Linked DNA regions of Homo sapiens: region 2 is linked to region 1. Evidence: fine-mapped expression QTL. A gene starts in region 1. The other region holds a variant in brackets. All regions are shown on one strand. Distances are between the middles of the regions.

Region 1 (14,988 bases):
CGCACCTGTAATCCCAGCTACTTCGGAGGCTGAAGCAGGAGAATTGCTTGAACCCAGGAGGCGGAGGTTGCAGTGAGCCGAGATCACACCACTGCACTACAGCCTGGGCAACAGAGTGGGATTCCATCTCAAAAATAAAGAAAAAAAAAAGAGCCCAGATGTTGGGGCGTGACTGCACGGTTCAAACCTGGGTATGATTGGAGCTTACTCATTGGCCTTCCTGTGCCTCACTTTCCCCTGAGAGATAAGGGCTGCAGTGGCACCTGCTGTGAACACTTGTGGCAGTGCACCTAGAGGGCCGGCCACACCAGTACCTGGCTCACAAGGCGTGACCCCAGGAAGGGCCTGCAGGTACGGGGGATGGTGGCCAGCCAGGCCTGCTGGAGCCCAGGCACAGACAGGTGCTGAGAGAGACACAAGGTTAGGACATTCACCCCATTGGCACTGGACACCAACAGTCTTTTGAGCAACAACATGGCTGGCTTTTATGCCCAGAAGGTCGCTGCTAACAGGGTGGGCTGTCAGCTCTGTTTGAAGACAGCCACAAGGCTAGAATCTAGAATTCTGTGTTCTGTGTGGTCACTGAGGTTCCATGATTGGATGGAGGTGGCACTGAGGATGACATTCAGGAGCACATCATGGCACCACTGCAGAAACAGGAACACAGATGAGGGGCTTGTCCACAGATGCCTTTGGTTCAGACACATTGACTGAGAGGACCCTGTCCAGGACGGCTGTCCAGAGGACGGTGCACAAGGCATGCCCTGCGCAGTGCTGCAGTGTGGGGTGGGGCTAAGGCCAGAGGGATGTGTGGGATGAAGGAAGAAGTGGTTGGAAAAGAGGCAATCAGGGTGACCCTGGCCACCTGCTGGGCAGTCGTCCCCCTGTCCCTGTGAGGCTGGCAGGCAGCCTGGTTGGGAGTCGCTGCCATTCTGCCCCTTACCTAGTCTCCCCTGGCTCTGAGCTGCCATCTCCTTAGCTATGGGAGCTGTAGCAGCAAAGGGCATGTGCAGATGAAAACGTGTGTGAAAGTGGGGTGGGCTGGGGCTGAAGCCCCTGCTTTTCCACAGGTGTCTGGCAGGAAAAGGGTGGGGAAGGAGAGTGGGATCCAGGCAAGGCAGAGAGAGCACACTAAGACTAGAAGGTTGCCTCCTCACCCACGGCCCCCACCACCCACCGCCTGCCTTGGGGCCATAAAGCAATGAGGGGCCCTCATAGCTGGGCAAACCCTGGACCCCAGCAAAGGGGAGTGGGCAGGCAGTGAAGCCTGGGAGGAGGAGGCACCAAGCTGGGCTGCCTGCCCTGCTTCCCAGCCCCCTCGGTTCCCTTTCCTTCCTGGCTAGAGCCCAGCCACCCTCTCTCCTCCAGGTGGACACCCAGACTGGGAAGGGGAAACTGGAGCCTCTCCTGCTCTTCAGGGAACTCTGAAAAAGGGTCAGGATGGCTGCAAAGGCAGGCTGTCACCTCCTCCTGGCTGGCGTCTGGAGGGAAGACCCAGTCTAGGCGGAATCGACGATGGCGCCCCCGGTAGCAGGTGGTGACGGTGCCCCCTGGGCCAGGCTCCACACTCACAAGGCTAGAAGATGTCCCTGGCCTCAGCCGACACAGCACACGGATATTTCCTGCAGTGGGGATCAGGTCAGCATAATGCCTCGCAGACCCTAAAGCACAGAGAAGCTGCACTTCTTCCAGCCGCCCTCCCTGCCCCGCTAGGCTCCCAAGCCTGTCATACCCTTGAGTTCTGGCAGCCGCCCTGGGCATCCGGCTGGGGGCCCTTGCTGCCCCTCAGGGAGCTGAGTGCCAGGCCCTCCAGATGACAGTGCCCCCAAGGCCCAGGACACCTGAGGGAACAGGGATGTACAGAAGGCAAGGGGTCAGCCAAGGAGCTGCGGAGGTGGGGGGTGGGAGGGTCCTGAGAGCAGCAGGGAGCCCCCACAGGCCCGCTCAGCTGTGCTAAGCCACAACTTTCAGTGGCTCTGGGCCCCTGGGGACATCATTGAGTAACCCCAGGATAAAGCCCAGGAATGACAGGCAGGAACACCACATCATCTGTCTCCTCCGTGCTTCTGGGCAATGCTTTAAGAGTTTACTGTCAACCAAGTATGCATAGAATTAAAATAAGGCCCAGAAGTGGAATCCCACCCTGGGTCACACAGAAGCTGTTTGGGTTCCAGAGCCCCACTTATTAGTACAGCCAACTCCCCAGGAACGCCCCCGTCAAAAGAACAGTGAATAGGCTGCCCAGAGAGGAGGGGCTAGGCGGGGAGGGGTCCTGACCTGGCCCCGGGCCTCACTCAGCGAACCCTGACAGCTCTGGGTAAAGGTGCTGACCAAACCTCGGAGGTCCCCGCAGCCCTGACGCAGGCTGGCCATCCGTGCCCGAAGTCCTGGAGAGGGAAGTCTGTTGGAAGGGAAGGCCCAGCCTCCAGGGCCTCCCATGAGCCCCAACCCCAACCCTTACCTGCCAGCTGCCCATGCATCTGCTGTAGCTCACGCCTGCAGTTCTGCTCCGTCTCCTGCTGGAGCTGCTGGAGGGCCCCTTGAAGGCCCTGCAGCTGCACCTCCTGCACCCCCAGCTGCCCCGCCCAACCCCACCCCTGTCACTGAGGAAACAGGCACTTACCAGGCCCTGCCTCAGATAAGCCCCTCCCAAAACCCCAGCCCGCCTCACCCCTGAGCCATGGATCCCTGGGCCCCATGCCCACCTGGGCTCGGAGGGCTTCTGTGGTGTCTTGGGCCTCCTGAAGCCGGCCCTGGAGCTCTAGCAATGCCTCTGCCTCCTCCTGCGGGAGGGTGGGGGCCAGGAGGGACTCAGAGAGGGACGGTCTGTGGTACCATTTCACAGATGGGAAAGTCAAGTCAAGAGGTGGGCAGAGCTGGCTGTGAACCCATGCCTCCCAGCTCCACGCAGACCTCCTTCCCACAGTCCCTCTGCTCTCCTGGGGTCAGCCACTCAGAGGGGCCACGGAGAGGGGGGTCTTCCCATTGGCATCAGCCTCCCTGATGGGGCTGCCCTACACAGACCATCCCGGGAGGTCCTGAGGAGGCTCGGGCCCTGTGGCTGCATGCCAGGTGTGCAAGAGCCCCAGGCTGCAGGAACGGCTGCAGCTCGGGAGCAGAGTACCTGCGGAGCCCTGATGGGGGGCCCGGGGCCCCAGTGCAGCAGGAGGTCCCGCATGAGACTCAGGCTCTGCTTCAGGGCCTCGTTCTCCAGAGTCAGATGCTGAACCCTTTTCTCTGAGTCCGTCGCCCCCTGGTGGAGAGGAAACCTCGGCACTCACCTGAAGCACCCCCTCCATGCCCGGCCCTGCCAGGTCTCCCTGCAGCCTCACCACGCCCAGGCGCAGTCGACCCAACTCCTCCTCCTGCTGTTCCAGCTGCTGCTTCAGCTCCTCCAGCTGGGGAGAAGTAAGAGAGACAGGGTGGACCTCCTTTTTCTGGCGTCCCAGCCGGCAATCCCTTCTGGCTCCAGGGACCTCACCTGTCCCAGGATGAGCTGCTCCAGCCGCTGCCACGCCCTCTGATCCTCCTCCAACTGGAGGGGCTGCTGTCCCTGGGTCTCATCCCCCAGTGGCTCGCCTGGGACTGCGGTGAAGTGGGAAGGGCTTTCTTCTTGGGATGTGGATCCTGGAGTAGGGTGGGCCCAGTTAGCACTGAAGAGGTCTCTAGTCCAAATCTTCCGGAACATGACCCCGAACTCCAGGCCGCCCAGGTTCTACCGGGATTTGCTCCCTCCAGAGTTCTTCTTCAACTTACTGTCCTTTACTCACCATCTGGAGAGGGGGGCCGGACCCGAGGGGCTGGCTGAGTCCCCTGGAGCAGGGCCTGCCTCCCCCTGGGGCTTCGAAGCCATGCCAGAAGGGCCAAGAGCTGACTGGTCACTGTCAACAGTGAGGGGACCTCGCCAGACTGCGAAGGAGACAAGAATCCGAGCAGGGCTGTGAAAGCCAGGAAGGCCGGGGCAGGTGGTACCTGCCAGCAGCCCCCTCCGCCGCGCTCACCTGGCCCAGGTCCGCCGGGCCCCCGCAGCTCTCTTCCGCCCCCAGCTGGACGGAGAGGAACTCGGCGAGGCGCAGTAGGGCCTCTTCCAGGGACACCGCGGCCGCGCGGCCCTCGGCTGCGCCTTCCGACCCATCCTCAGGCTCGGAGCTGGCTGCCGGTCAGGGAGGAGGGCGGGAGACATTTCGGGTCACGTGCTTGAGCCAGGCCTCCGCCCCTCCCTGGGAGGTCCCGGCACCGCCCTCGCACCGCGGGACTCCCAGCCCGCACCTACCGGCCAGGCCGGTCAGCTCGGTCCACAGCTCTGGCGCGGGCAGGTCTGGGCGCCGGCGACCCCGGGGCTTGCGGGCTCTCTAGGGAGGGGGCAGGGGCGCCCCTGAGGAGGGGGGCAGGCAGCCTGCTGGCCCCTTCCCTCCGCGAACCGGGCCGGAGGATTGGGGCCGAAGTCTACGCTTCCAGCATCGGGGCCGAGCCGAGGGTCCTCGGCACGGCCCCGTCGCCCCGCGCCCCGTGCCCGCCCCCGCCCCGGGAACCTCGGCGTGGGGGTGGGGCAGGCGGCGGGAGACGACGGGCTGCACGGCCAGCCCCGCTCACCTGGGCGGGGTCCCCGGGCTCCGCGGCCGCCGCGGCGCCACCATCCCTGCGGAAGAGGCTGTAGAAGATGTAGATGAGCAACGAGTAAAAGGCGTACATGGGAGCGCGGGGCGGCAGAGGGCCCCGCTTCGCGCCGCCCCGCGTCCCCGCGCCCAGACTCGGCGCCCGCCCGCCGCAGTGCCGGTGCGCATGCTCGCGACGGCCGCCCCCACGGCCCGGCTCCCACGGCTGGAAGGCGAGCGCGGGGACGGGGGTACTAGAAACAGGTGCCCGCGGCCGCACCTGGAGACCCGCCGTTTCTCACGGCGCCGCCCGGCGCGCCCCAACCCCTACACCGCGGACACCGGGCTGAGAGCGCCCACGGCTCCCGCGACCCTCCTCTCGGAATCCCTCCCACCCTCCGCGTAGTCCCCCACCGCTCCGGTTTCGCGGAGCCTTCAACACGCCGGGGTTCTCCTTCCTCTCCCTACAGCCCCGCCCATCTCAGCCCCGCCCATCTCAGCCCCGCCCAGACCCCCCCTCCTCGCAGCCCCGCCCAAACCCCGTTCCTTGCAGCCTCGCCCAGGCTCCTCCCCTCTCGGTCCCTCTCAGTCTCGCCCAGACCCCTCTCCTCGCAGCCCCGCCCAGGCCCCGCCCCTCGCAGCCACGCCCAGACCCCCCCATCGCATCCTCGCCCAGGCCCCGCCCCACCCAGGCCCCCTCCCTCTCAGACCCGCCGCTCTCAGCCCCGCCTAAACCTTATCTCCCTCAGCCCCGCCCAGACCCCCCGCCCCTCGCAGCCCCGCCCAGACCCCGCCCCTCGCAGCCCCGCCCCGGCCCTTCTCCCCTCATCACGCTCCTTCCAAACCACTATGCCCACGCACGCACCCACCCAAACAGAGCGTTTTCTGGTCCCCGAGCTCCTCCCGACCCCACCCGCTCCTACGGCCTCCAACCGGCCCCCCCCAGGTCTCGACCCTCTCCCCCAGGCCTCGACCCTCCCCCCCCAGCCGCTCTAGCCCCGCCCGGCCGCTCTAGCCTCCGCTCCTCTCGCTGGTGGAGGTTCCCGACCGCGCTCGCTCCCGCAACTGGGGGCACGGCAGAGGAGGCAGGGCCGACGGCGGTGGGCGGTGCGTTGCGCAGGCTCGGGCCTCCCGCTCGCCGCTGCGTTGGGACCGCGCAGCCCGGTAACTGCGCACGGCTGGCCTCCCGGAGTCCTGCGCCGTCGCTCCTCCTGGACCCGGGTTCCCAGGACAACGCCTCCCGGAACGCAGGGAGCAGGCCGAGGCCGCCGCGTGGGCCTGCAGCGCCTCGCCGCTCTCTCTTCCCCAGGCCCGCACTCCCACTTGGGCTCCAGGGCCCCAGGGCTGACGTTCCCCCCAGCTTAGACCCTGAGTCGTTTTCCCCCGTTTCCCGGCTGAATTAGGTTCTTCTTCTCCACAGGTGTGTGCAGTGGCCTCAGGGATCCGGAAAGTCTAGGACTGAACTTCTCCTAACATCCAGTAATGGGGACCTGGAACCTGGGCTTACTAGAGTGCCGCGCGTAGGGCTCCAGGTCGCTGGCTTCTGCGCTTCCTTCCTCTCCAAAGTTGAGTATCTCCTATCTGTGTCCTCGTACATACTGCCGCCTGAGGTGCCATGGCCCCCAAGCCGGGGGCCGAGTGGAGCACAGCCCTGTCCCATCTGGTGCTGGGAGTGGTGTCTCTGCACGCAGCCGTGAGCACAGCCGAGGTGAGTACACTGGGGCTGAGCAGGGGCGCATCCCCATACCTCCCAAACCCCAAGGACCTAGTTTCCTGAATTAGAGAGAGGTTGGTGGGAAGTGCGTCTAAGACCAGGTCTCCATGGAAGCCCCAAACCCTTTCCTGTTTAAAAGGGTGACCCCGGCCTCTTTTTCCCACGTGTTCTCCCTTCCCTGTGTTGACAGGCAAGTCGAGGGGCTGCTGCTGGCTTCCTGCTCCAGGTCTTGGCTGCCACCACCACGCTGGCCCCAGGGCTGAGCACACACGAAGACTGCCTTGCTGGAGCCTGGGTGGCCACCGTCATCGGCCTTCCCCTTCTGGCCTTCGATTTCCACTGGGTGAATGGGGACCGCTCCTCTGCCAACCTGCTCCTGGGAGGAGGCATGGTGCTGGCAGTGGCTGGCGGCCACCTCGGCCCTGAGGGCCGCTCTGTGGCTGGTCAGGCAATGCTGTTGGTGGTCGCAGTGACCATCCTCATTGTAGCTGTCTTCACGGCCAACACTTATGGGATGTGGGGGGGGGCGATGCTGGGTGTGGCAGGCCTCCTGAGCCGGCTGGAGGAGGACAGGCTGCTGCTGCTACCGAAGGAGGATGTCTGTCGCTGGGCCTTGGCTGTAGGCAGCTGGGCTTACTGCCGGGCCCTGCATACACAGCGCCTCCAGTGGGAGTGACAGTTGGATACAGCCAGGCAGGGTTTCTGCCCTGCCGAACACTTTCCCTCCCACCTGCCTGCTCCTGGCGCCTTCTCCCTAGGGGTAGACTCTTCTGCCTACTGAAGTGGGTTTGCTGCACATTGACTGGTCAGGGGCAGAGTCTGGGTGCTGTCCTTTGGCCACGTGTGGGGACTTGTCTAGACCAGAATGAAAGGGACAGGGTCCCAGACACGTTTGGGGGTCCTGATTCTGGGCTGGACACGGTTGTGGATCCAGAGAAGAGGCCTAGTCTCCAATAAATCTTAGGAATTTTGCAGGAATATGAAAACTGCCCATTTTTGAGAGGGATTGAGGGATCTTTCAGTGAGCTTCCTAAGGCCCCTCAGGACAGTAGTCAGTTACCCTGACAGGGTATGTGCTGGAACTAGGATGGGGTCTCATGCAGCCCGGCCTCCTTTTGACTATTGTCAGGAAGACCCCTGGGCTGAGAAGACATAGCCCTGGGCCCTTACTCTCCAGGGACATGGTGGAGTTCCAGATATCCTGGCCTGGCCTGGCAGGTGGCCCTCTGGGGCAGTGACCTTCAAGAACTGAAGAGTAGGGTGGAGGCAGGGGAGGGCTGTACCACAGGCGTTTCGAGAAACGCACATCCTTCCCAGAGCTGATTCGCCCTCCTGTGTACCTCCGGCCTGTGGAAGCCAGCCCTATTCCCTAATACCTTCGTTTTCCTCAGTGGACCCCTTCAGTCTCCAACCCCAGGGTTAGAGGGGGTTCGGACGAGCAGAGGATTAGATTCCGGTGGGTTAGGGGTCTGGAGTCCCCTCTCCTGGAAGTCTCTCCGCTTGCTCCTGTGGAGACCTAAGGGGTCCCGCACCCGACAGAGAGGGGTGGCCGGCGGGATTTTTCACTTGTGTCCTTCCCCTGCGGGGAAGGGGGCGAGAGCCCCTAACACAAGCCTGAGTCTTGGGGGACAGAGACACAGGCACACCCCGCCGTAGGGGTCGGCGGCCGCCACTGGCTCGTGGAGCGTGGGTGCCGCGCCGGCGCCACAGCTCGCGTGGGCCTCCCTGCCCCCAGGTGCGAGTCCCTCCGCGACTCTCGCAGGCCGCGCCCCCTCCCCGCCCACCTTCTGCAGGGGCGGGCCTTCGGGGGCCCTCGCTCTCCCATTGGCTCTAGTCCCTGCGCTTTCTTGCCCCAAGCGGCGCTCCCATTGGCCCCGCGTGGGGCTCACGTGACGGGGAAGACGAGGGGGTGGTGGCGGCGGGGCGGGGGGAAGCGCACAGCGAAAACAAAGATGGCGGCCGTGCCGGGGTCGGTGGCCGCGGCGGCTGTGGGGCTACGCGCGGGCCGGGCCCACTGAGGCGGCGGCGCAGGGAGCGGGGCTGCGGGTTCGCGGCGGCGGCGGCAGGAGAGCGGCGGGAGCGCGCGGCGCCCCTAACTTCTAGTCGGGGGAGCGCGCCGGCATCCGCCCGCCGGGCCGGCCGGCCGCTATGTCCGGCGCCGAGGAGGCCGGCGGGGGCGGCCCGGCCGCGGGGCCCGCGGGCTCCGTGCCGGCCGGGGTCGGGGTCGGGGTCGGAGCCGGGCCCGGGGCGGCCGCCGGGCAGGCGGCGGCGGCGGCTCTGGGCGAGGCGGCGGGGCCTGGGCTCCCGGACGAGGCGGGCTTGGCGGGCGCCCGGCAGCTACAGCTGCAGGAGGCGGCCGGCGACCCCGACGCGCCGCCCAAGAAGCGGCTGCGGGCAGCCGAGGCGGCCGAGGCGGCGGCGGCGGCGGCGGCGGCCGGCAGCGGGAAACTGGAGGAGCGGCTCTACTCGGTGCTGTGCTGCACCGTGTGCCTGGACCTGCCCAAGGCCTCCGTGTACCAGGTAGGGCCGCCGGCCGACCCCGACCCGGCCCAGCCCGGGGCTGCAGCCCCCGCCGCGGGGCCCCAGGATCCGCGTCTCCTCGGAGGCCAGGCCTGCGGGGCCCGGCGGCCGGGAACCCTCTCTGGCCCTTACAGCCACTTCCTCGCCCAGCGGGGCTCCAGCGGCTGCTCCGAAGCTCCTCGTTGTCTTTCTCTCAGGGCTTTATTTTCCGCTCGGGACCCCCCTTTTCTGTTTTCTGATCCACGGTACTTCCCGATCTGAATCGCTTGTCTTCCGCTTACCTCTCCCTTCTTTTTTCTAGACTTCCCCACGGTCCCCTGAACACTCTCCCAACCCACAGCCTCAAACTGATCCTTAGCCCGCAACTGCTCCCCGCAACCCACCCGGTCCCAAGCTCCCTGGGCTCAGAGTCCTGTGCTCGAGAGCTCCTTCCCCATTCTTCCGGCAGCCACACCCCCGAGTTTGTCCCTCCACTCCTGAACATCCTATGGACGCCTCCTTTTCTACCCTCCTGGGTGGAAGAATCCTTTCTCTTGGTCCATTTCCAGTTCATCCTGAAGAACAGTAAGGAGAGGGGATTGCTGTTTGTCGGGATGAACCATTTGCAACAAGCCCCACAGTTTGGGTACCTTCTCCAGTCCCAGCCAAACCCCACATCCAACTGGACTTGCCATGCCCCACGCTAGGCTCCTGCCCACCTCACCCAGGCCAGGCCAGGCTTCCTAGGCAGCCAGTGCTCCAGGAGCCGGCCCACCCCTCCTCCCCCATCTTCACATCCGCATGGCAGTGGGACTCAGCCCTTAAGCAGCCTAGGGCTGTTAGGGTACCTGGCCCAGGTGGGTTTGACATGCCCTTTCCCAGGTAGCAGCAGGGACAAACTGGTTGACACCCAGAGGCAGAGTACAGTGTCCCCACCTTCCCTGTGTCTTTCCCTCTCTTTCAACTCCCCAGTCCCTGTGAGAAATGAAGCAGGTTCTCTGTCAGCTTTCTTTACACTTACAGGAGCTGGAAGTAGCTAATGGGGCCTTGTTTCCCTGCTTGTGTTTGAATTGGGGGCCTGGATGAGGAGCTACTTTTGTAGCAGGTGGTGTAGGGCTAGTCTAGGTTGCCATTTCTCCAAACTCTGGATCTCCAAGTCCTTCTTGCTGTGGCATGACCTTGTCGGGAGGACCCCAGTGTGCCTGGGTGGGGAGAGGGCACTGGCTCTAACCCACCCTCCTGGGTGTCAGGCACCAGGGCCAGCTAGGGGAGCACTTTTCAGAGCCACTGGCTCCCAGAGTTAGCAGTTACTCCTTGGCTTTGGCAGTGCCTCAGCTTCCAAGATGTGCCCACTCTCCAGCTCCTTTTTCCTGGCTCACAACCTTCGATCCTCCCAGGCGGAAGAACTCTCCTTTTTTTTGAGACGGAGTCTCACTCTGTCACCCAGGCTGGAGTGAAGTGCCACGATCTCTGCTCACTGCAACCTCCGCCTCCCGAGTTCAAGCAATTCTCCCTACCTCAGCCTCCCGAGTAGCTGGGATTACAGGCGCCTGCCACCATGCCCGGCTGTTTTTGTATTTTTTAGTAGAGACGGGGTTTCGCCATGTTGGCCAGGCTGGTCTCGAACTCCTGACGTTGGGTGATCCGCCTGCCTCGGCCTTCTGAAGTGCTGAGATTACAGGCATGAGCCACTGCGCTTGGCCAGAACTTTTTCTTGGATCTCGAGGGAGACTCCAACAAGCCAAGCCAATGGTGTGAGGCCACGGGGGAACAGGGAAGTCTCCTTGTCTCCCCATTGGTGGGTGGGCTGGAGCTGTAGCTGGACCTGGTGGTGATGGGCCACATGGTACTGGTCCCTGGTGCACTGCATCCCCCATCTAGACTGGCCCGGCACAGAGTGATGGCTCTGCTTCTGACCGGAGCTCCTGGTGACCAGGCCTCTGAGCCTAGCTGGTTCAAACCGGCCTGCACTGTGCAGAGTGGAGTTCTGCTCTGGGCGGCCAGAGGCAGGGAGCTGAACAGGTGTAATGGAGACCGAAGGCGCTGGGGCTGCCCTGGCTGGTGGCCCTCCCTGGCCTGGGGGCTCTGTTCAGTGACTTCCCTGGGAACAGAGCAGCTGAGCGAGGAGTGCTGTGGGCACAGGCCTCCCTGAATGCTGCGAAGAACACCTCCGGCGGGTGGCTCTCGGCTGTGAGTGGTGCCCCTGGAAGGTCAACACAGACCTGGAGACCTGGGCTCTGGCCTGCTCTGCTCCCTGGAGAATCTGGGCACAGATGGTGTGGGCCCCCACATGCTGCCTTCTGCGTGTCCCTGGTTGGGCCCATGCTGGCCATCACCCCAGCTTGGGTTCAGTCTACCATATTCTACTAGCTTTCCTTGGTGACCACGTTGATTGGCTGTCTCGAGCCAGCCAGTGTCAGGAATGCAGCAGGTTCCACCCTCTGTTCCTGCTAGAACGCTTTTCCTGACCCCAGCAGAACACATGGCTCAGGGTGGGCACCAGCCAAGCTGGGGGCTGACTTAGACAGTCCCTGACTCTGGTGAGAAGAGGGGAGTGGCCATGCTGAGCTTTGTGTGTTCTCCCTGGCACTGGGGCTGTGGGGGACAACTCCATGGGCCTCTGGAATTGGCTGGGTCCTCAGTAACTCGAGAGCTTGTCATCCAGATACCAGATGCCACCAGTGCTGGCAGGGAAGCCTCGGGTGGTGCCCCAGGTCTGAGCCTTTGGGCCTGCAGGGCCAGCTGACCCATGGGCCTGTGCCCGTACGATGATGCCTCACAGGCTGGGAAACCTGCTTGGGTGTCAGACTGAGGCCCTCATGCAAAAGGTTTCCGCCACCGCCGAGTCCTGCCTCACGTCAGGTTGGGGCTGCAGCCAGTACAGCAAGACTCAGCTTTTATGTTCTCTGTGTGGGTGTTAGATATGTTCTGGGGGACTGGCCTGACAAGGTGTGCAGCCACCTTCTGGAGTCTCAGGTGGGTGGCAGGAGGGCTGGTGGGGCAGCAGTTACACCTGTGCAGGAGCTTCTGGCCTGACCAGGCCGCGCAGGTGGTCAGGTCGTTCCTGCCGGCTCCCTGCTCTGCGGCCCGAGGGCAGTGTGGCCTGTTGGCACCTCTGCCCATGGGGCACCTCCTCTGGGAAGAGACAGCCTCAGCGGTGCCCGGGACGTTGCAGCCGCAGCCTCATCCCTGACTTCTCTCCCTCCATTTTGGCCCTTCAGACGAGGCCCAGTGTGATGCTGCGTAAGACAGACCTGGCCCTGACCCTTCCTGCTGCTGTCAGATGAGGCCCTGGGCCTTGGTGCTGGCACCTGGAGGAAGGGACTGCGCATTGTTCCCACCCCTCATGGGGCATTCTTAAGGCAAAAACGGGCTCACTCGGGTGTAAGTGCCGGGCAGGGGCCTCTCACAGATGTGGTCCAGCCGCTCCCTCTAACTCGGCCCTGCACAGTGCCCTGCCATTCCCATGCTCTCCTGCCTGAGGTGTCCTCTCCCTGCCCCTGCCCACCTCTTGGGCCCGGCAGAGGCAGCGCCCCCACTTTGAGACTTTGTTCTCTCCTTGCTACAAGGATCCCCTCCTGCCCCATCTGACCAGGGTGTGTCCACTCTGTTCTGTGGGTGGGTTGGTGTGTGCCGTGGCCCTCCCGCCTGTAGCGCCCATGTCTCTATGCCACATGTTGACAGTCCATTGATAACAGCCCAGGAAGCAGAGATGGCTCCTCTCTGCCCGAGCCCCACACCCCCAACCAGGCCAACAGTGTGCAGTCCTGGGGGGGTGGAGTCACCATCCACATGTCCAAGGAGCTTCGGGCCCCTCTTCCCCAGTCTCCTGGGCAGCAGTACAGGACTGCAGCTGACTCGTTCTTTGAGGTGAGGAAAGTGGCAGAAAACATCTTTGTAAATACGTCTGCTTAGGTATCTAAAACACAGGAGCAAGGAAGATGTTCTGGAATCTCTGGCTAGTTGGAATTTTTGTTTTCTGTGGTGGTTATCATTTGAGTTACTTTTAGATCTAAGCAGCCTTGTTCTGAATGTGGGCCCGACTCTGGGGATTGATTGGCCACCGTTTGAGGTCTGACAGCAGTAGCAGGTGAGGGACTTCAAATCCAGCCTGGGTGGAGGGTTCGAGTCCTGGCTTCATGCTTAACAGCTGTGCGGCCTTGGACAACGTGCCAGTCCCTCTCAGACCCATGTTTGATTCGGGAGGTTAGGGGCCGAGCACGCGGGGTGCATGGGGTGTGCCCTGAAGCACCACTGGCCCTGGTGAGGCCTTGCCTGCATGCAGATGGCAGAGGAAGGGGGACCTCCAACTGGCTGAGCAGCGCTTTTGGGGTTTGTGCCACAGGGAAGCCCTTTGGCTGCATTTTGGCTCTGACGACCTCTGTCAAGGGCCTGTGGGTCCCTGACCCCTGGGTGAGCGAGGGCACTGCTCCCATGGGCCTGGGCACTGTGCCATCCTCCAGTGGCAAACAGGAGGTCCCCAGGGTCTGAGAGAACCATGCAGTCCAGGTGTGAAAGGGGTCCTACAAGGTCAGCTGACCATAGAGACCTTGGGACCACCAGGAAATCGTGGGGGCCCTCAGCCAGGGGATGGGGTCAGGGCTCCTTGAGCCTGTTCCGCCCATCTAGCTCCCCTTTAACCCCAGGGAAGAAGTAGCTCAGGTGGAGACCCTGGGTCTGCATGGGGGTCACGTGAGCTGCCTGTAGCCAGCAGGGGGGAGGGCTGGGTGCTGTCCTGAGGATGCAGGTGCAAATGGCCATTTCTGGGCCACCTGTGTGTATCAGCATCTGCAGAGGGGCCTGGGGTCTGGCTCCTGGGGTTGGCAGCCCCAGGGGCTCTGCCATGGCTGCCCAAGGTGGTGATATTTCCTGTCTGCCTGTTGGGTGTGGGGCAGTGCCACCCTGTCCCATCCCACCTCATCAGCACAGAATGAAGCTGGTCCTATACTCATCACCTGTGCACATGAGGAAACTGAGGCCCCAAGAGGGGAGCCCAAGGTCATATTACTGGGGATCTGTGGGCTGGCGTCTGAGCCCAGCACTGTGGCTTCAAGCCCACATCTGCCCTAGGAGGGCCCAGGAGGCCCTGTGATGTCATTCCCCCGTGATGTCATTCCCCCATGACATCATTCCCCTGTGATGTCATACATGTGACGTCATTCCCGTGCTGTCACCACATGATGTCATCCCCTGTGGTATCACCTCTGTGATGTCAATACCTCTTTTAATGTCATCCCCATGGTGTCATTCCCCCCATGATGCCATCCCCCCATGATGTCAGTCCCCCATGATGTCAATTTCCCACAATGTCATCCCCTGTAATGTCAATACTCCCTTTGATGTCATCCCCGTAATGTCATCCCCTGTGATGTCATTCCCTCATGATGCCAGTGTGATGTCATCTCTGTGATGTCATTCCGTGATGTCACCCCCCATGATGCAATTCCCCTGCAATGTCATGCCCCTGTGATGTCATCCCCCGGTGATGTCATCCCCCCATGTGATGCCAGTCTCCCATGATGTCCCCCCTGTGATGTCATTCATGTGACATCATCCCGTGATATCATTCCCGTGATGTCTCCCCCATGATGTCATTCCCCATGTGATGTCAATTTCCCACGATGTCACCCCTCTGACATCATCCTCTGTGATGTCTCGCCCATGATGTCATCCCCCATGGCGTCATTCTTGGTCGTGGGGGGTTGTGGATCCCCTCCTCTCCCCTCCCTTGGGGTCTTCCTGGCTGGTGGGGAGAGGTGGCCTGGCCTGGGTGCCACAGCAGCTGCTCTGGAAGGTGCCCGGGCTCTTGGGGGCCTTGGCCCACGCCATCCCCTGGACTGTGCGGCGCCCTCCAGGGCCCAGCTTCTGTTGGGTGTTGGGCACAAGTCAGAATCAAGTGCATCTGGCCAGATGCTGCCAGGGCCAAGGATGCAGCTGCCTGTGGCCTGGCCTTGGTGTAGAGCCAGAGTCTTGCGCAGGGGCTGAGGGGACCCAGATGGTGGGGAGGCTCCGGAGCATGTGACCAGGGACCGTCCTGCTGTGGACAGACCTCCTGGGCTGAGTGTTGGTCGGGACCGGGCCATGCACCTAGAGATGTCCTTTGACCAGTGGGGAGGGTCTGGGGGTGAGTGTGGCTGTGTCCCTTGGCTACTGGGCCAGTGTAGTCCAGGGCACTCTAGG
Region 2 (14,604 bases), 490 kb before region 1:
TTCCTCCACAACTCACTATTCCATTCTTGATCTTAAAGATGTTTTTTTCACTATTCCCCTGCACCCCTCATCCAAGCCTCTCTTTGCTTTCACCTGGACTGACCCTGACACCCATCATCGGTCCCAGCAGCTTACCTGGGCTGTGCTGCTGCAAGGTTTCAGGGACAGCCCTCATTACTTCAGCCAAGCTCTTTCTCACGATTTACTTTCTTTCCACCCCTCCACTTCTCACCTTATTCAATATATTGATGACCTTCTTCTTTGTAGCCCCTCCTGTGAATCTTCTCAACAAGACACACTTCTGCTCCTTCAGCATTTATTCTCCAATGGATATCAGGTATCCCCCTCCAAAGCTCAAATTTCTTCTCCATCCGTTACCTACCTTGGCATAATTCTTCATAAAAACACACGTGCTCTCCCTGCCGATCATGTCCCACTAATCTCTCAAACCCCTACCCCTTCTACAAAACAACAACTCTTTTCCTTCCTGGGCATGTTTAGATACTTTCACCTTTGGATACCTGGTTTTGCCATCCTAACAAGACCATTCTATAAACTCACAAAAGGAAACCTAGCTGACCCCATAGATCCTAAATCCTTTCCCCACTCCTCTTTCCATTCCTTGAAGACAGCTTTAGAGACTGCCCCCACTCTAGCTCTCCCTGACTCATCCCAACCCTTTTCATTACACACAGCCGAAGTGCAGGGCTGTGCAGTCAGAATTCTTACACAAGGACCAGGATCGCGTCCTGTAGCCTTTTTGTCCAAACAACTTGACCTTACTGTTTTAAGCTGGCCATTATGTCTCTGTGCAGTGGCTGCTGCCACCCGAATACTTTTAGAGGCCCTTAAAATCACAAACTATGCTCAACTCACTCTCTACATTTCTCATAACTTCCAAAATCTATTTTCTTCCTCATACCTGATGCATATACTTTCTGCTCCCTGGCTCCTTCAGCTGTACTCACTCTTTGTTAAGTCCCACAATTACCATTGTTTCTGGCCCGGACTTCAATCCGGCCTCCCACATTATTCCTGATACCACACCTGACCCCCACAACTGTATCTCTCTGATCCACTTGACATTCACCCCATTTCCCCATATTTCCTTCTTTCCTGTTCCTCACCCTGATCACACTTGATTTATTGATGGCAGTTCCACCAGGCCTAATCACCACACACCAGCAAAGGCAGGCTATGCTATAGTACAAGCCACTAGCCCACCTCTTAGAACCTCTCATTTCCTTTCCATCGTGGAAATCTATCCTCAAGGAAATAACTTCTCAGTGTTCCATCTGCTATTCTACTACTCCTCAGGGATTATTCAGGCCCCCTCCCTTCCCTACACATCAAGCTTGAGGATTTGCCCCCATCCAGGACTGGCAAATTAGCTTTACTCAACATGCCCTGAGTCAGATAACTAAAATACCTCTTAGTCTAGGTAGACAGTTTCACTGGATAGGTAGAGGCCTTTCCTACACAGTCTGAGCAGGCCACCGCAGTCATTTCTTCCCTTCTGTCAGACATAATTCCTCAGTTTAGCCTTCCCACCTCTATACAGTCTGATAACAGACAAGCCTTTATTACTCAAATCAGCCAAGCAGTTTTTCAGGCTCTTAGTATTCAGTGAAACCTTTATATCCCTTATGGTCCTCCATCTTCAAGAAAAGTAGAACTGACTAAAGGTCTTTTAAAAACACACCTCACCAAGCTCAGCCACCAACTTAAAAAGGACTGGACAACACTTTTACCACTTTCCCTTCTCAGAAGTCAGACCTGTCCTCAGAATGCTACAAGGTACAGCCCATTTGAGCTCCTGTAGAGATGCTCCTTTTTATTAGGCCCCGGTCTCATTCCAGACAGCAGACCAACTTAGACTGTGCCCCAAAAAAAACTTGTCATCCCTACTATCTTCTATCTAGTCATACTCCTATTCACCATTCTCAACTACTCATACATGCCCTCCTCTTGTTTACACAGCTGGTTTACACTGTTTCTGCAAGCCATCACAGCTGATATCTCCTGGCGCTATCCCCAAACTGCCACTCTAAACTCTTGAAGTAAATAAATAATCTTTGCTAGCAGGACTATGCTGAATCTCCTTAGGCACTCTCTAATTAGATGTCCTGGGTCCTCCCAATTCTTAGACCTTTTATACCTGTTTTTCTCCTTCTCTTATTCCATTTACTTTTTCAATTCATATAAAACCATATCCAGGCCATCACCAATAATTCTACATGATAAATGTTTCTTCTAATAACCCCACAATATCATCCCTTACCACAAAATCTTCCTTCAGCTTAATCTCTCCCATTCTAGGTTCCCACGCTGCCCCTAATCCCGCTCAAAGCAGCCCTGAAAAACATCACCCATTATCTCTCTATACCACCCCCAAAAATTTTCACCATCCCAACACTTTACCACTATTTCACTTTATTTTTCTTATTAATATAAGAAGACCAGAATGTCAGGCCTCTGAGCCCAAGCTAAGCTATCATATCCCCTGTGACCTGCACGTACACATCCAGATGGCTGGTTCCTGCCTTAACTGATGAGATTCCACCACAAAAGAAGTGAAAATGGCCTGTTCCTGCCTTAACTGATGACATTGTCTTGTGAAATTCCTTCTCCTGGCTCATCCTGGCTCAAAAGCTCCCCCACTGAGTACCTTGTGACCCCCACTCCTGCCCACCAGAGAACAACCCCCTTTGACTGTAATTTTCTTTTACCTACCCAAATCTTATAAAATGGCCCCACCCCTATCTCCCTTCACTGACTCTCATTTCAGACTCAGCCCACCTGCACCCAGGTGAAATAATGCTCACACAAAACCTGTTTGGTGGTCTCTTCACATGGATGCACATGAAACAAACTACACTATAAGGCCATAGTCACCAGAACAGCATGGTACTGCTATAAAAATAGGCACATAGACCAATGGAACAGAATAGAGAACCCAGAAATAAACTCAAATACTTACAGCCGACTAACCTTCAACAAAGCATACAAAAACATAAAGTGGGGAAAGAACACCCTATTCAACAAATAGCCCTGGGATAGTTGGCAAGCCACATGTAGGAGAATAATCCTGGATCCTCATCTTTCACGTTATAAAAATCAACTCAAGATGGATCAAGGACTTAAATCTATGACCTGAAAATATAAAAATTCTACAAGATAACATCAGAAAAACCCTTCTAGACATTGGCCTAGGCGAAGATTTCATGACCAAGAACCCAAAAGCAAATGCAACAAAAACAAAGATAAATAGGTGGGACTTAACTAAAGACCTTTTGCACAGCAAAAGGAAGAGTCAGCAAAGTAAACAGACAACCCACAGAGTGAGAGAAAATCTTCACAATCTATACATCCAACAAAGGACTAATATGCAGAATCTACAAGGAACTCAAACAAATTAGCACGAAAAAATAATCCCATCAAAAAGGGGGCTAACAGCCGGGCGTGGTGGCTCACTCCTGTAATCCCAGCACTTTGGGAGGCCGAGGCTGGTGGATCACCTGAAGTTGGGAGTTTGAGACCAGCCTGATCAACATGGAGAAACCCCATCTCTACTAAAAATACAAAATTAGCCCGGCATGGTGGCGCATGCCTGTAATCCCAACTACTCAGGAGGCTGAGGCAGGAGAATTGCTTGAACTCAGGAGGCAGAGGTTGCAGTGAGCCAAGATCACACCATTGCACTCCAACCTGGGCAACAAGAGTGAAACTCCATCTCAAAAAAAAAAAAAAAAAAAAGTGGGGGGTGCACTAAGGACATGAACAGACAATTCTCAAAACAAGATATACAAATGGCCAACAAACATGAAAAAATGCTCAACATCACTAATGATCAGGGAAATGCAAATCAAAACCACAAAACAATACCACCTTACTCCCACAAGAATGGCCATAATCAAAAATCAAAAAATAATAGATGTTGGCGTGGATGTGGTGAAAAGGGAATACTTCCACACTGCTTGTGGGAATGTAAACTAGTACAACCACTATGGAAAACAGTGTGGAGAATCCTTAAAGAACTAAAAGTAGAACTACCAAGAAATACCATTTCGTCCAGCAATCCCACTACTGGGTATCTACCCAGAGGAAAAGAAGTCATTATACGAAAAAGATACTTGTATATGCACGTTTATGGCAGCACAATTCACAACTGCAAAAATGTGGAAGCAGCCCAAATGCCCATCAATCAACGAGTGGATAAACAAACTGTAGCATATATATATTTATATATATATGTGTGTGTGTATATATGTGTGTATATATGTATATATCTATACATATATAGAGAGTAGTATTCCATCATACATATATATATGATGGAATACTACTCAGCCATAAAAAGGAGTGAATTAATGGCATTCACAGCAACCTGGATGGGATTGGAGACTATTATTCTCAGTGAAGTAACTCAGGAATGGAAAACCAAACATCGTATGTCCTCACTCGTGAGAGGTAGCTAAGCTATGAGGATGCAAATGCATAAGAAGGATACAATGGACTTTGGGGACTGGGACTCAGGGGGAAAGTGCAGGAAGGGCGTGAAGGATAAAAGACTACAAATTGGGTTCAAGGCATACCGCCCAGGTGACGGGTGCACCAAAATCTCACAAATCACCACTAAAGAACTTACTCATGTAACCAAACACCACCACCTATGGAAATAAAAATTTAAAAACCTATGGAAATAAAAAAATTAAAAATAAATAAAAAAATAAACATAAGTTCCAATTTCAGGCCATCTCTTTGTGAATGCATATGACTGTACACTTTCAGAAAAAGGTATGTCACATCTTGAATGCTTTGCTGCTTAGAAATTTCTTCTGCCAGATGCCCTAAATCATCTCTCTCAAGCTCAAAGTTCCACAGATCTCTAGGGTAGGGCCAAAATGTCACCAATCTCTTTGCTAAAGCATAGCAAGAGTGACCTTTACTCCAGCTTCCAATAAGTTCCTCATCTCCAACTGAGAGCACCTCAGCCTGAACTAAAAAAAAAAGGGGGGGGGGTTATCTAGACAGTGTTTCTTAAATTCCAATAGAGTTTGTCATGCATTTTTTATTATGTATTCCTGATTTTGATAGTTTAATCTGCCTGCAAAATGAACGTCAAAATATTTGTGAGGTTTTTTTTGGTTGTTGTTGTTTGTTTCTTTTTTTTGAGACAGGGTCTCACTCTCTCATCAGTGCAACATGTGATCCCGGCTCACTGCAGCCGCACATTCCCCGGCTCAAGCAATCCGCCCACCTCAGCCTCCTGAGTAGCTGGGACTACAGGCGCACACCATCACACCTGGCTAACTTTTGTATTTTTTGTAGAGATGGAGTCTCCCTATATTGCCCAGGCTGGTCTCAAACTCCTAGCCTCAAGCCATCCGCCCGCCTCGGCCTCCCAAGTGCTGGAATTACAGGCGTGGGCCACCGCACCCAGCCTTATTTGTATTCTTTATGTCCAAGTGTACAATTCATTTCCGTATTAGAAACGATCCATGCACAATCTCACGAAAACATGTTATCTACTGAAGGAATCTGAATTCTTCCATTTATCTATCTAATCACTTACTGATTGAATGATTCAGTTCTTCCAAAAAACGTATCCTTAGGTTTTTATCAAACTACCGTCTGTTCCGATTCTGGGGGCCTGTATATTAAAATCTCCCACTACACGAGTATATCTCATTATCTCTGCATTTCTATTAGTGTCCCCTTTTCTTCAGTTGCCGCCTTGTTCAGTGCACGGGTCAACTCTGAAAAAAAGGGGAACAGAAGGGTCTCTGGCCTCAGGGCTAGTGGGACCAGGTCTGGGGCTGAACCACAGAGTCGCCCCGGCCTCCCGCCATCTAGAGAGGCTACGCTGCCCCAGATAGAACGAGCGGCGGGCCGGAATTCGGGGCGGGACTTCCGGGGGTCAGCCGGCGTTGGCTGAGACGTCTTCGTGCCACGGTGCTGCCTCCTTTCCAAGCGCGACCCGTTGAGGTTAGTTCCGCGAAGCTCCACGCCTGGGACCCTGCGTCTGGTTGTCCCTGATGCCCCCGTGGTTGGGGGGCCCAGGGGCCTCTCAGGGCTCAGACGGGGCGGGCAGCGAGCTGGGGACCCCGGGCGGGGGCGGAGCCGCGCGGGGGGTTGTGGGAGCGCGGGGGGGGCGGGGCGGGGGCAGCTCGGCCTGGGCTGGAGGTCAGAGCCTCTGGGGGCTGCCTCCGGTAGGGGGTCTCCGGGGAGACCCCGGGGTAAGGTCGCCGCGAGGGGCCGAGCCAGGACTCCGCCCACAGGCTGGTGGCGTTCCCGCCTGTCGGTGCCACCATTCGAGCTCGGGCGGAGCGACGGGGTGAAGGGGTGGCCTGCCCTTCCACACCTGTGGGATATCTCATCAGGTGGGACGAGAGACTGAGAAAAGAAATAAGACAAAGTGTAGAGAAACAACAGTGGGCCCAGGAGACCGGCACTCGGCACACTAAGGACCTGCACCGGCACCGGTCTCTGAGTTCTCTTAGTTTTTATTGATTATTATTTTCATTATCTCAGCAAGAGGAATGCAGTAGGAGAGCAGGGTGAT[AATAGGG/G]AGAAGGTCAGCAAAAAAAAGCATGTGAGCAAAAGAATCTGTGCCATAATTAAGTTTAAGGGGAGGTACTATGCCTGGATGGGCACGTAGGCCAGATTTGTTTCTCTCCACCCAAACATCTCAGTGGAGTAAAGAATAACAAGGCAGCATTGCTGCCAACATGTCTCACCTCTCACCATAGGGCAGTTTTTCTCCTGTCTCAGAATTGAACAAATGTACAATCGGGTTTTATACCGAGACATTCAGTTCCCAGGGGCAGGCAGGAGAGAGTGGCCTTCCTCTATCTCAACTGCAAGAGGCTTTTCTCTTTTACCAATCCACCTCAACACAGACCCTTTACGGGCGTTGGGCTGGGGGACGGTCAGGTCTTTCTCATCCCATGAGGCCATATTTCAGACTATCACATGGGGACAAATCTTGGACAATACCCGGCTTTCCAAGGCAGAAGTCCCTGTGGCTTATCGCAGAGCATTGTGCCCCTGGTTTATTGAGACTGGAGAATGGCGATGACTTTTACCAAGCATCTGCTTGTAAACATTTTGTTAACAAGGCACATCCTGCACAGCCCTAGATCCCTTAAACCTTGATTCCATACAACACATGTTTTTGTGAGCTCAAAGTTGTGGCAAAGTGGCTGGGGCAAAGTTACAAATTAACAGCATCTCAGCAAAGCAATTGTTCAAGGTACAGGTCAAAATGGAATTTCTTATGTCTTCCTTTTCTACACAGACACAGTAACAGTCTGATCTTTCTTTCTTTTCCCTACATGGGGCAGCAGTGCGATGGGGTGGTTCCCAGCGCATGGGAGACAAGGGTGGGTTCGTGGTTCCTGGTGTTCCATGAGAAGTCAGAGATGCACTGAGCAGAGCTGGGGGAGAAAGGGGGTTTCGCTCAGCCTCAGATGTCCTGCCTGGGAGGCCCAGTCAGTAGTGGAGTCGCTCTGCGTGTGGAGGAGGTACTCTGGGAAGGGAGGAGAGTTTGGGCCAGTTCTTCCCCAAGGGGGAAGGTGCTGAGGGATCGGCCAGGGCCCATCCTGTGGCTGCTTGCTATGGGAGGGTGGTGGCTGGCTCTTCCAGTTGTGTGACTCCTAAAGAGCAGGCTTAGCCTCTAGCCAGGAGACTCCACTTCCAAGCTTGTTCAGGCTGTTGGCCGAATCTGTTTTTCTTGAGGTTGGTCCTCAGAAGTGCTGGCTGCCAGCCTGAGTGATCCTTAGCTCTCCGAGGTCCTTCCATGTGGCCCTCAGATCTTTCTCAGGCTTTTAAGGGCTCATTTGATTAGATTGGGTCCACCAGGGTAATTCACGTCCATAACCTTAATTCCCTTTGCAAAGTCCTTTTTGGTATGTAGTGTAACATAAGCACAAGTTCCAGGGATTAGGATATGGACCTGGGTGAGAGGGGGCATTTATTCTGTGTCCTGGTAAGCAAGATCCCACACATAATGAAGTGAGAAAAATAAGGTGTGAAGCCATAGCATAGTTGGGTGTAATTTATCATTAAAAGGCAAACATATGTTTATATATTTGCTGTGTAAACCTAGATTAATCTGGAACGGTACACTAGAAACAAGGGAAACTGTGTGGATGTTTGGGGAATTTTTCACCATAAATCCTTTTTACCTTTTAAATTTTGAGGTGACTATGCCCCTATTCAGAAACAATGAGAATTTAAAGTATTTTTAAATAAAATGAACTAAATAAATATTGCAGATTATTACATCACCACTTGGATGGGGAGAGGTTTCCCTCGAGGAAACTGGGCATCTGCACTGTAAGGGCAGGCAGATGCAGTCACAGAGGGCCTTGTCACCCCCATCGCCCATGTCTCCTCCATTTCTGCTGCCACGTGGTAGGCACCTTAGTGCTGTACCTGCTTTGAATCTCATCTCCCACCATTCCTCTGAGCACCCTGCCAAGTTAATCTTGAGATATTAGTTTTGTCTCTCCTGACACAGAAATGTGGCCAGTGTTTCACCTTCATCTGGCAGCCAAGGCCCCTTATCATTGGTCCATAGTAACCATCCCTGTGAGCTCTGTTCATATCTCCTTGCCTTCTCCTTGATGGTGATCTGAGTCCAGGAGCACCACCCAGCCCTTCTTTCTTCCCCACATGGCCTATGGGTGACACGTACCATCACGTTGACTCCCTGCACCATCCTTCTGCCACCTTTCTTCACATCCCCTTTGCAGATCCCCTTGACCACACCCTCATTCTCAGCTGGTGCTCATGAAGGACAGAAGAGTCAATGTCAGTACAATGTGAGTGAAGGGCTGAGGTATGTCAGTGCTCCCAGTGGGCACCCGGGCAGGGTATGGTGCATTTACACAGTGAGGGGTGGGGGAATCAGTAACATGTGAGGAGCCCGTCATGCCGCCACGTGGGAGTGTCCTCTCTCCTGCTCACAGGGAGTAGTTAGGACTGGAGATGAGCCCAAGTTTGTGAATCTTAACAAGGGTGTTGATGCCTCAAGACTGGACATAATCACCAAGGAAGTTGGTGGCAGTGCAGAAGTGCACACTGGGGTGCCAACATGAAATGGGGAATGAGAGGCTAGGAGGGAGTAGCTGGTGCAAGTAAAGATGGGAACACCTGCTGTGGGTGCTGCCAGGATGGTGCAACTCAGATAGAACTGACCACTAGGATTTGGTAGGCGTTGACACATAATGATGACATGTGGGGCTGCAGCACAGGCTGCCCCTGGCTGTTCACCCTTTGGAGCTGCTGTTCTCCCACTCTAGGTGGGTCTGGCCTGCCCAGCTTCAGAGCATTGTGAATGTCAGCAACAAGGAGTGAGAAGAGTGGTCACAGCAGGATACAGGCCCACAGCAGGATACAGGCCCACAGCAGGATACAGGCCCCACAACAGGACACAGGCCCACAGCAGGATACAGGCCCGCAGCAGGGTACAGGCCCGCAGCAGGGTACAGGCCCCACAGCAGGGTACAGGCCCCACAGCAGGACACAGGCCCCACAGCAGGACACAAGCCCAACAGCAGGACACAAGCCCAACAGCAGGACACAGGCCCACAGCAGGACACAGGCCCACAGCAGGGTACAGGCCCACAGAAGGGTATGGCCCACAGCAGGGTACAGGCCCCACAGCAGGACACAGGCCCACAGCAGGGTATGGCCCACAGTAGGGTACAGGCCCACAGCAGGACACAGGCCCAACAGCAGGACACAGGCCCAACAGCAGGATACAGGCCCACAGCAGGACACAGCCCCACAGCAGGACACAGGCCCACAGCAGGACACAGGCCCACAGCAGGGTACAGGCCCACAGAAGGGTATGGCCCACAGCAGGGTACAGGCCCCACAGCAGGACACAGGCCCCACAGCAGGACACAAGCCCAACAGCAGGACACAGGCCCAACAGCAGGATACAGGCCCACAGCAGGACACAGCCCCACAGCAGGACACAGGCCCACAGCAGGACACAGGCCCACAGCAGGGTACAGGCCCACAGAAGGGTATGGCCCACAGCAGGGTACGGGCCCCACAGCAGGACACGGGCCCACAGCAGGGTATGGCCCACAGTAGGGTACAGGCCCACAGTAGGACACAGGCCCAACAGCAGGACACAGGCCCAACAGCAGGACACAAGCCCAACAGCAGGATACAGACCCACAGCAGGACACAGGCCCACAGCAGGGTACAGGCCCCACAGCAGTACACAGGCCCCACAGCAGGACACAGACCCTGTGGGGGCTGCCCTCCTATCATGGCAGGTCTGGGCACCATGACCCACTTTACCTTAGGGTCAGCATCTTGCCCCTTTGTACTGTGGCCCTGGCTTTTGAGTCTGTGTCTCCATGGCTGACTCCCTCTTTTTAGGTCCAAGATCAGGAAACACAGCATCAGCCCCTGAGACCTGGCAGCACCAGGCCCTCTTCAGGTCTTGGGCTGCAGGGGTGGAGGAAGAGACCCCGGCCTGATGGGAGGATGAATCCCTAGAGCTAGCCTGTCTGTAGACTCACCTGTGTTCTTGCCGGTTTTCAGGTCCTTGTCATGCCCAGCCTCAGAACTCGCCGTGAGGAGGCAGAGATGGAGCTCTCAGTTCCAGGACCATCCCCCTGGACCCCTGCAGCCCAGGCCCGTGTGAGAGATGCTCCTGCTGTGACCCACCCTGGATCTGCAGCCTGTGGTACCCCCTGCTGTAGTGATACTGAGCTGGAAGCCATCTGCCCTCACTATCAGCAGCCAGGTACTTTAAGAACAGTTCTCCGCTGGTGCCCTTATTCTGGGGAAGTGATGTCCATGGAACCCTGTGCTTACCCCTAGGAGGCATCTGTGTCATCACAGGTAGGGAGGGTGACGGGGTACTCTGACTCAAGGAGCCAAGGCTGGATGTCAGCAAGGAAGTTAACCTAGCCTGGCCCCTGGCACCTTGAGCAGAACTGTGATTTCCCCACTTGACACGAAGAGGTATGACATGATGGCCACCAGCGTCCTTTGATTTGCCCTATACTCCTGACCCCTTCCCAATTCAACAACCAGGCTGGTGGCAGCCCTCTCCCCTCAGGACTCTACTCTGGTCCAGGGCTTTGTACTGTGGTTACCCATACAGTTGGCCATCTAAAGCCTAGGAAGAAAAGCTGAGGAGTTTCTTGTGGGGAAATAGAGGCATTCAAAAGCACCCTTGGCCCGGGTGTGGTGGCTCATACCTATAATCTGAGCACTTTGAGAGGCCAAGGCAGGAGGATTGTATGAGGCCAGGAGTTCAGGACCAGCCAGTATAACATGGCAAGACCCTATCTCTACTAAAAAATTAAGAAAGGCTGGGTGTGATCACTCTCGCCTGTAATCCCAGCACTTTGGGAGGCCGAGGTGGGTGGATTGCTTGAGGCCAGGAGTTCGAGACAAGCATGGCTAACATGGTAAAACCCTGTCTCTACTAAAAGTACAAAAATTAGCCAGGTGTGGTGGCACATACCTGTAATTCCACCTACTTGGAAGGCTGAAGCACAAGAATTGCTTGAACCTGGTAGGCAAGGGTTGCAGTGAGCTAAGATCATGCCACTGCACTCTAGCCTGGGCAACTGGAGTGAGGCTCTGTCTCAGAAAAAAATACATAAATTTGAAAAAAAAAAAAGCACCTATATATTTTGGGGAATCCAGGAAGTCACATGCATGCGCAGGACTGGGTGTGTGCTCAGAAAAGACCTGTTAAGACCATAAGCTTTCTCAAGAACTCTGTCTAATCTCTAGGCTCAGTGAAGGCAGTCAACTCAGAAAGAGTTGTAAACAGCGTTTAAAAAGTACCCCAACACAGAGTCAATCCACAAAGACTGGGAGAAGTGTTTTGTGTTGGTTTTTCTCTTGATAAAATCTCTGTCAAAACACTGGTTGAACACAAGCTAAAGAAAAAGACTTCAGTGACTGTACTCGACAAAGAATAGTCTTTGCAAAAATAGTTTGGAAAAGTCACTAAATGAACATGTGACTCTAGTCTTCAACAATCAAAAACAGCAAAGCCTGGAGGGGGGATACCACATTTTAATATTCAGTTGTGCAGTTTTTAACAAAGCAAAAATCATGAAGCATATAACGAAGCAAAAAAATATGTCCCATTCAAAGGAAAAAAGTAAACTGACAAAAAGTGTCCTGGAGAAAGCACAGACATTGGACTTAAGTAGACAAAAACTTCAAATCAACTGCCTCAAATATGCTCAGAGAGGTGAAAGAAACCATAGAGAACTAGGCTGGGCATGGTGGCTCACACCTGTAACCCAGCACCACGGTGGCTCACACCTGTAACCCAGCACCACGGTGGCTCACGCCTGTAACCCAGCACCACGGTGGCTCACGCCTGTAACCCAGCACCACGGTGGCTCACGCCTGTAACCCAGCACCACGGTGGCTCATGCCTGTCATCCCAGCACTTTGGGAGGCTGAGGCAGGTGGATCACGAGGTCAGGAGATCAAGACCATCCTGGCTAACAAGGTGAAACCCCATCTCAACTAAAAATACAAAAAATTAGCTGGGCATGGTGGCAGGCACCTGTAGTCCCAGCTACTCTGAAGACTGAGGCAAGAGAATGGCATGAACCCAGGAGGCGGAGCTTGCAGTGAGCTGAGATCACACCACTGCACTCCAGCGTGGGTGACAGAGTGAGACTCCGTCTCAAGAAAAAAAAAAAGAAAAAAAGAAAAAAAAAAACCATAGAGAACTAAAAGAACCAGGAAAATGATGTGTGAACAAAATGAAAATATCAATAAGAAATACAAATTGTAAAAGAAACATAGAAAGTCTGGAACTAAAAAATGAAATGGAAATTTTGCTAGAGGGTTTCAGCAGTAGATTTGAGCAGGCAGAAAAATCGGCAACTTGAAGATAGGATAATTGAAATCATTCAGTCTGAGGAGAAAAAAGATCTAAGAAAAGTGAACTTAATGGCTGGGCGTTGTGGCTCACGCCTGTCATCCCAGCACTTTGGGAGGCCGAGGCAAGCAGATCACTTGAGGTCAGGAGATCGAGAGAATCTTGGCCAACGTGGTGAAACCCTGTCTCTACTAAAACTACAAAAATCAGCTAGGCGTGGTGATGCATGCCTGTAGTCCCAGCTACTCTGGAGGCTGAGGCAGGAGAATCGCTTGAACCCAGGAGGCGGAGGTTGCATTGAGCCGAAATCGTGCCACTGTACTCCAGCCTGGGTAATGGAGTGAGACTCTGTCTCAAAAAAAAAAGAAAAAAGAAAAGTGAACTTAATGGACCATGAGACACCATCAAGTAGACCAACGTGCATAGTAGGGATGTTCAAGAAGGAAAAGAATAGAGAAGGGGATGGAAAAAATATTTGAAGAAATAATGGCTGAGAGTATCCCCAATGTGATGAAAGACATGTCTACACACACAAGCAGTTCAACAAACTGAGTAGAGTCTATTTAAAGAGATCCACACCAGGTCTCTTTCTAATCAAATTGTTGAAATACAAGGAATCTTGAAAGCAGCAAGAGAGGAGACCTATCCCTGAACAAGGGGTTCTGGGTAAGATTTCTAGCCAGTTTTTCATCAGAACCCATGGAGGTCAGAAGGCAGTGGGACGGCTTAGTTAAACTGCTAAGAGGGGGAAAAAAACCTGTCAACTAAGAATTCTGTTATCTGGCAAAATTATTCTTCAAAATGAAGGAGAAATTAAAACATATCCAGGTAGATAAAAGCTGAGGAAGCTTGTTACAAATAGACTGCCCCACAAGGAATGCTTTTAAAGGGAGTCCTGAAGGTTGAAATGAAAGAACACTAGACAGGGACTCAAAGCCATACAAAAATAAAGACCTCCAGTAAAAGTAACTACATAGGTAAGTATAAAAGTTAGTATCCCTATATTTTGGTTTCTAAGTACACTTTGTATTAAGTTGGTGCAAAATTAATTGTGGTTTTTGCCATTACATATTTCCTAAGTGATCTAAAGAACAAATGCATAAAAGGTCTGCATTATAAGTCTATGTTTTTTACCCCACTATGTATAAAGGTGTAATCTGTGATGACAACAACATAAGGGGGGTAACATCTGTAGAGAAGCAGAGATTTTGTGTTACTGAGACTAAACTGGTATCAGTTGTTTTAGGATGTTAGAACGTTCATTGCAATCATCATGGTAATCAGTAAGAAAATATCTTAAAAATGGGCTTGACGCAGTGGCTCACACCTGTAATCCCAGCACTTTGGGAGGCCAAGGCAGGCAGATCACCTGAGGTCAGGAGTTCGAGACCAGCCTGGCCAACATGGTGAAACCCTGTCTCTACTAAAAATACAAAAATTAGCTGGGCATGGTGGTGGGCACCTGTAATCCCAGCTACTCAGGAGGCTGAAGCAGGAGAATTGCTTGAACCCAGGAGGCAGAGGTTGAACTCAGGCAGAGGCATGAGATTGTGCCACTGCATTCCAGCCTGGGTGACAGAGCAAAACTCCACTTCAAAAAAAAATCTTAAAAATGGGCCAGGCATGGTGGCTCATGCCTGTAATCCCAGCACTTTGGGAGGCCGAGGCGGGCAGATCACAAGGTCAGGAGATTGAGACCATCCCGGCTAACA

The links.
Region 2: its variant is fine-mapped to the expression of ZFTRAF1 in caudate (GTEx, PIP above 0.99).

The regions. Positions count from the first base shown.
Region 1 is chr8:144,456,124-144,471,111 of GRCh38, reverse strand. It overlaps ZFTRAF1 (zinc finger TRAF-type containing 1), which reads left to right and starts at 8,241. Exons shown (of 4, transcript NM_001330618.2): 1 at 8,241-8,829. The coding sequence starts at 8,458. TMEM276-ZFTRAF1 (TMEM276-ZFTRAF1 readthrough) reads left to right here and starts at 5,411. Exons shown (of 5, transcript NM_001408018.1): 1 at 5,411-5,541; 2 at 6,016-6,303. The coding sequence starts at 6,211. It overlaps TMEM276 (transmembrane protein 276), which reads left to right and starts at 5,620. Exons shown (of 3, transcript NM_032687.4): 1 at 5,620-5,759; 2 at 6,016-6,303; 3 at 6,500-7,287. The coding sequence starts at 6,211. The coding sequence ends at 6,985. It overlaps KIFC2 (kinesin family member C2), which reads right to left and starts at 4,775. Exons shown (of 18, transcript NM_001369769.2): 1 at 4,594-4,775; 2 at 4,274-4,352; 3 at 4,002-4,153; 4 at 3,771-3,909; 5 at 3,482-3,627; 6 at 3,333-3,398; 7 at 3,125-3,253; 8 at 2,706-2,783; 9 at 2,462-2,576; 10 at 2,278-2,387; 11 at 1,733-1,841; 12 at 1,465-1,622. The coding sequence starts at 4,692. It also overlaps MIR10400. RefSeq lists enhancers at 3,782-3,881, 3,572-4,408, 6,607-7,220, 7,315-7,992, 7,993-8,670 and silencers at 4,542-5,101, 5,162-5,291, 5,362-5,621, 5,672-5,901, 7,859-7,978 and 3 more.
Region 2 is chr8:144,942,181-144,956,784 of GRCh38, reverse strand. It overlaps ZNF16 (zinc finger protein 16), which reads left to right and starts at 5,905. Exons shown (of 3, transcript NM_006958.3): 1 at 5,905-5,988; 2 at 10,570-10,774. The coding sequence starts at 10,579. RefSeq lists an enhancer at 5,776-5,845 and a silencer at 6,086-6,395. The variant AATAGGG/G (reference allele first, on the strand shown) is at 6,566.